Linked DNA regions of Homo sapiens: region 2 is reported to be linked to region 1. The links are microRNA targets in miRTarBase. Many come from high-throughput screens and were not tested one by one. Region 1 holds a microRNA gene; the other region holds the end of a gene's coding sequence.
What was found. The annotated mature microRNA hsa-miR-3135b reads GGCUGGAGCGAGUGCAGUGGUG and lies in region 1 at 980-1,001, shown strand. An mRNA with a match to its seed (bases 2 to 7 or 8) in the 3' UTR can be bound and repressed. Matches are read on the target gene's strand: a 7mer-m8 pairs with bases 2 to 8, a 7mer-A1 pairs with bases 2 to 7 and ends in A, and an 8mer does both.

Region 1 (3,151 bases):
TACTTTGCTTTCCTTTGTTATTATTAGTTCCTGCATACACATTCTTTATAGTTGCATTCCTGAGAGGTTCTTACAGTCTTGGGCAGGCCTTGGACAGGGTTTCCTAAATGTGATAAAAATGAGAAAAACTGAAAAACTAACATAACTTCAAACAGAATGCTTGTCTGCCTATGTTTATGGGACTTTCCTGAATACATTTAAAAAAAAAACCTTTGTATTACAGAAAATTTCAACTGTGTGCAATAGTACAGAGAAGAATTCCATGTATCAACAGCCTTGCTTTAACAATAATCAATTCATGAGCAATTTTGTAAACCCACCCAGTTATCATACAGGCACATACTGGATTATTTTGAAGATATTTTTAGGTATCATATTTCATTTATACATTTTTATTATGAAAATCTAAAATATAATGGCTTTTTAGAAACATAACAGCAATGCCACTAACACATTTAAAACGAGATAAATAATTCCTTAATACACTCAGTGTCAATTTTTCTGATTGCCTCATATAAATTTTTTAACAGATGTTTTGTTTGAATATGAATCTAGACAAAGCTCAGCGTTTGGTTACTATATTTCTTCAGTCTTTTTCAAGTGTATAGCTTTTCTTTTCTCTATTTTTAACTTTTTTTGCAAATTGTTTGCTGGAGAAATCTTTTTATTTAATCTAGTAGAACTTCTCATATTCTGAATTTTGTTGCTTACATCCTTGTGGTGTCATTCATCATGGGATTTTGTCTTGGACTCCAGAAAATAACAATAACACAAATTTGTTAACTTCTATAAACTGCTTACTATGGGCCAGACTGTGTGTGAAGTGCTTTATTTGTAATGTTTAATTCTTCATATCTCTAGTTTGTATGTGGTAAGTACAAACCTGAAATATTTTACGTGATTTTTACGTTTTGTAATTTTTATTTATTTATTCATTTATTTATTTATTTTTAGAGACGGGGTCTCGCTGTGTTGCCCAGGCTGGAGCGAGTGCAGTGGTGCAGTCAGTCCTAGCTCACTGCAGCCTCGAACTCCTGGGCTCAAGCAGCAATCCTCCTGCCTCAGCCTCCCTACTAGCTGGGACTACAGACTGGTCTCCATCTCCTGGGCTTTAAGGGACCCTCACCTTGTGCTGAGATTACAGGCATGAACCATTGTGACTGGAAATTTTGTAAAATTTAAACAATGTGATATTACCTATTAATGAAGTCATACTTTATGTATGTAATCTGAAATAATTCAGATAACAATTTTTAAGAATCATTTAATTTAAAATCATGCAGCCTGATTTATAACTGTTTATAATAATAATATAATAATATAATAATGATGATTTCACTTTGAACTTTTAGCTGATAAAAAGATATATTTGCTCTATTTTATAAAACTAATTTTAGCTATGCTATTTTAACATTATATAAATACTTTTTGAATACATTCTTTCAGTAAAATCCAACTACCATTATATTTGCTTTCCTCAGTATTTCTTGGGGAAGGATTCTAAATAGGGGAGCATTTGTGTATTTCTGTATGACTCTGGTTATAATGCCATTCAATGTAAGCCTTACACACACACACACACACACACACACACACACACACACACAAATGCACACACCTCCAGAATGCTGGGTTCTTGGCTCATGAATCATTGAAATTTATATAAAATTTATTTTAAATCCTATTGCAGAAAAGTTCTTAGCACATTCATGCATTTTCATGTGACCATTTTTATACTACAGTTTTAATTTTATATATTTGGGATCATTATTGTTGACCTTTTCTTTTCTTTTTTTTTAATAGAGTTTATTTTAGAGAAGTTTTAGGTTCCCAGAAAAATTGTAGAGTACAGATAGATGTATCCCATATGCTCTCTGTTCCCACACATGCATAGCCTCCCCCACTAGTAACATCCTTCATGACAGAGGTACATTTGCTACAACTTATGAACTTACACTGACACATCATTATCACCCAAAGTCCATAGTTTATATTAAGGTTCATTCTTGGTGTTGTACATTCTATGGATTTGGGCAAGCGCATAATGATATTTATTCACCATTGTGGTATCAAATAGAGTAGTTTCATTGCCCTAAAAATCCTCTGTGTTCTGTGATGGACGTTTTCATGATCACCACTGGTTCAGATTCCCTGCACTTACTAATTCCCAGTCTGCATTTATAATTATTTTCTCCCGGAGTCTCCCCACCTCCTCCCCAAAGTAAATATGGATAAACTGCTGTTGCATATAATTCACCTTGACTTAAAATTTATGGGACATAAGGAGGGAATATACCCCTTAGAGAGTTAAAAACCGAAGTCAAATATTACAACTTCTTGTCCTAAGAGTTCTCTTAGCAACCCAATCTCAGCCTCTCAAGAAAGAAAAAAATCCTCCAGTTAACATATGAAAAGAAACTCACTTTTACGTCTACGCTTGAATCTCCTAAATCACTAAAGGGCTAAGGAAAACAAATGTACTTTTCATATAATATGATCCATTCTTTTTAATAAATCCATTATAAACATAACTGCAGTGTTTTCTTATATATTTATATACTACGTGTAAGGCACTGTCTATATACCAAGATTATTCAAATTCTGTCAATAACTCTGCAAGGAAAATATTATCACTCCCACATTGTGGATGAGAAAAATAAGGTTCAGAAATGTCAATCAGATACTTTACCCAGTAAAGTTTAAAATACTAGCTTCAAAATACTGAGTCAAGTATTTGGATTTAGGTTTCTTTGTACAAAACTATGCTGTATCAATTATTATGTTAATGTTTTGTCTCTTTTTTTTCTCCTATTACATTTTAAACTCACTGATGCAGATAGCATGGACAGAAATATCCTGGCAGATTTCATAGCTGTTTAGAGCTCTCAGGTCCCTGTGGACCCATTTCCTCTGAGAGATTTTCTATTAGGAGACCACGAATCCAGTGTAGGACACAGCACCCACTACTGCTGCTACATTGTCTCAACTGTCTTGTTCTTCCTAGGATTTCTCTCTCATAGGCTCATGCTTTCCTTAGCCAGGAAGGGGGAGGAGCAGGGGGCTGGGGCCCCTAAATGGGTCTGTAGCTTCTACTTCTATCTGTTTTCCATTGTCACTAACCCTAAGTAAGGAACAAGCATTTGTTCCTTTT
Region 2 (3,000 bases), not on the chromosome of region 1:
TGCCTCCCAGGTTCAAGCAATTCTCCTGCCTCAGCCTCCCAAGTAGCTGGGATTACAGGTGTGAGCCACCGTGCCCAGCTCTGACTAAGCTTTTATTTAGCCAGCCACTTGTGGCTTAAACCTCCTCATCCCCTTGAGTGGGCTCCATCAAAAAGTAGTCTCAGGCTGGGCACGGGGCTCACTCCTGTAATCCCAGCACTTTGGGAGGCCGAGGCGGGTGGGTCACTTGAGGTCAGGAGTCCGAGACCAGCCTGGCCAACATGGCAAAACCCTGTTTCTACTAAAACAAATACAAAAAAATTAGCCAGGCATGGTAGTGCGTGCCTGTAATCCCACCACTCTGGAGGCTGAGACACGAGAATTGCTTGAACCTGGGAGGCAGAGGCTGCAGTGAGCCAAAATCACGCCACTGCACTCTAGCCTTGGTGATGGAGTGAGACTCTGCCTCAAAAAAAAAAAAAAGGTGGGGGCACCTGGGCACGGTGGCTCACGCCTGTAATCCCAGGACTTTGGGAGGCCAAGGCAAGTGAATCACCTGAGCTCAGGAGTTCGACACCAGACTGGCCAACATGGTGAAACCCCATCTCTACTAAAAATACAAAAATTAGCTAGATGTGGTGACGGGCGCCTGTAATCCCCACTACTAGGGAGGCTGAGGCAGGAGAATCACTTGAACTGGGAATGCAGAGATTCTAGTAAGCTGAGATCGCGCCACTGCACTCCAGCCTGGGCAACAAGAGCGAAACTCCATCTCAAAAAAAAAAAAAAAGTCATAGGGAAGCGTATTAGTAATACAGTGAATGAAGCTGGACTATTCATTGCACTTAAAGTGAAAAGTGCTACAGATTATGAAATAATTACTAAAACATACAGCCACACTGTTTCCATAACTGCAGAAGATGGGACTTTGTAGCATATAAAAACAATAAAATAGAGGGAACACTTCATTAGGCAAACAAAAGAATTAGGACCTATAAAAATTTGCACTTTTTTTCCTGGATTTTTTTTTTTTTTTGTCAACCTACTCACCAAAAAATTTGCACTTTGACTCATATTGGCCTATTTTAACATTTCAAAATCATTTAAAGAAAAATATGACTTTTTCTGTCATAATTCCCAGTCTTAGTCTCTATCTTTGATCAAAAAGAGGATAGGGCAATACATTAAATTGACAAGGCATATAACAGCCACTGAATCTTTCTGTTCATGAGAAGAAATCCCAGATACACCATAAATGAGATGCAAACCAGCAGTAAGAATGATGGCAAGGTTTCTGTATTTCCATCAGAAATTGTGGAAAAGGGCCTAAAACCAGGAAAGACAAGGCCATTAAAAAAATGTATTTGAGGCCGGGTGCGGTGGCTGACACCTGTAATCCCAGCACTTTGGGAGGCCAAGGCGGGCGGATCACGAAGTCAAGAAATCGAGACTATCCTTGCCAACATGGCGAAACCCTGTCTCTACTAGAAATACAAAAAATTAGCTGGGCGTGGTGGTGCATGCCTGTAGTCCCAGCTACTCAGGAGGCTGAGGCAGGAGAATCGCTTGAACCAGGGAGGTGGAGGTTGCAGTGACCCGAGATCATGCCACTGCACTCCAGCTGGTGACAAAGCAAGACTCCATCTTAATATATATATATAATTTGAGACGGTGTCTCGCTCTGTCACCCAGGCTGGAGTGCAGTGATCATGATCATAGCTCATTGCAGCCTTAAATTCCTGGACTCAAGTGATCCTCCTGCCTCAACCTCCCAAGTATCTAGGGCTACAGGTGTGCACCACCATGCCCTGCTAATTCTTTTATTTTTTAGAGACAAGGTCTTGCTAGGATGGTCTCAAACTCCTGGCTTCAAGCAGTCGCCTCTCCTCGGCCTCCCAAAGTGTTGGGATTACAGGCATAAGCCACTACGCCTGGCCAGAAAAAGCCAAAAAAAAAAAAAAAATTAGGGCTGGGTGAGGTGGCTGATGCCTGTAAACCCAGCACTCTGGGAGGTCAAGGCGGATGGATTGCTTGATCCAGGAGTTGGAGACCAACCTGGGCAATGTGGCAAAACCTCATCTCTACAAAAAATATTTTAAAAAAATAAATAAATAAGTAAAATAGAAGTTTGACATGAAAGTATATAATATAAAAAAATCCAACTCCGGAAAACCAGAATACAACTCACCAAATGTTTTGCTTCTCCACCAACGTAACAATTTATAAAGCAAGAGATGAGAAAAAGAGATTATTGGGAAATGTACTGAATAATGAGGAGTCTGGGGAATAGAACAAAAGTTGTAAGTCGTAACCTGACCCATCTTACTTCACTGGTAATCAAGTACAGTCGAAAGGATGAAATAAAGAAGTGAGTAGTTTAAAAACTCTGTTGGACCAGCACCTTGAATCAAATGGATGTTTTAGGGTTCTGTTTCCCACTGAACCAAGAATTGTATCCCTCCATCTCTCCTTGAGGAGAGGCCCTATGTTAGACCTTGGCTACTCATCATTAAGATAAAATCTTAATAGATAAAACTGGAATTCCTTGAATCCATGAAAAGACAGTGTTCATTAAGGGTTTGTGCAGTGGATGCTCCTTATGTCCCATGGTAGAATAAGATCTCCTTAGCTCCGCCAAGTTAAAGGCTCTTGCAAGGGCACTTAGAGATGTTGCCTCTTCATGAAGATTTCATGTAGGTAATCCCAAAATTTCGTCTGCTCTGTTTCATTGTTGTGGATCATGGCAGTGAGAGCTTCCCCCTGGTCCAGACCTTGCCAATAATCTTGCAGCCACATCTCTTTCCAACTGAAATATCAAAATGGGGGTTGGATTATGGAACTGCAGCATAGTTATGAGTCCTGCCTTTTTCCGAGTGGGGCCAAAGAAATCTTAAGCAGATACAGTGGTCTCTAACTTGGACAAGACTGCTGTGAAAGGAAGACAAAGTGAAGTAAATCCAATATAAGCCCAAGCGACAGGCAGTAAGTCACAAACACAAAGACATCACACAGACTACCCAA

Region 2: miRTarBase lists POFUT4 as a target of hsa-miR-3135b. The part of its 3' UTR that is shown has no 7-base or 8-base seed match.

The regions. Positions count from the first base shown.
Region 1 is chr6:32,747,802-32,750,952 of GRCh38, reverse strand. MIR3135B (microRNA 3135b) reads left to right here and starts at 974; the gene lies at 974-1,041.
Region 2 is chr10:73,775,326-73,778,325 of GRCh38, reverse strand. It overlaps POFUT4 (protein O-fucosyltransferase 4), which reads right to left. Exons shown (of 3, transcript NM_173540.3): 3 at 2,107-2,785. The coding sequence ends at 2,641. Among named protein-coding and RNA genes, the nearest start is that of POFUT4, 4.6 kb to the right of the region's middle.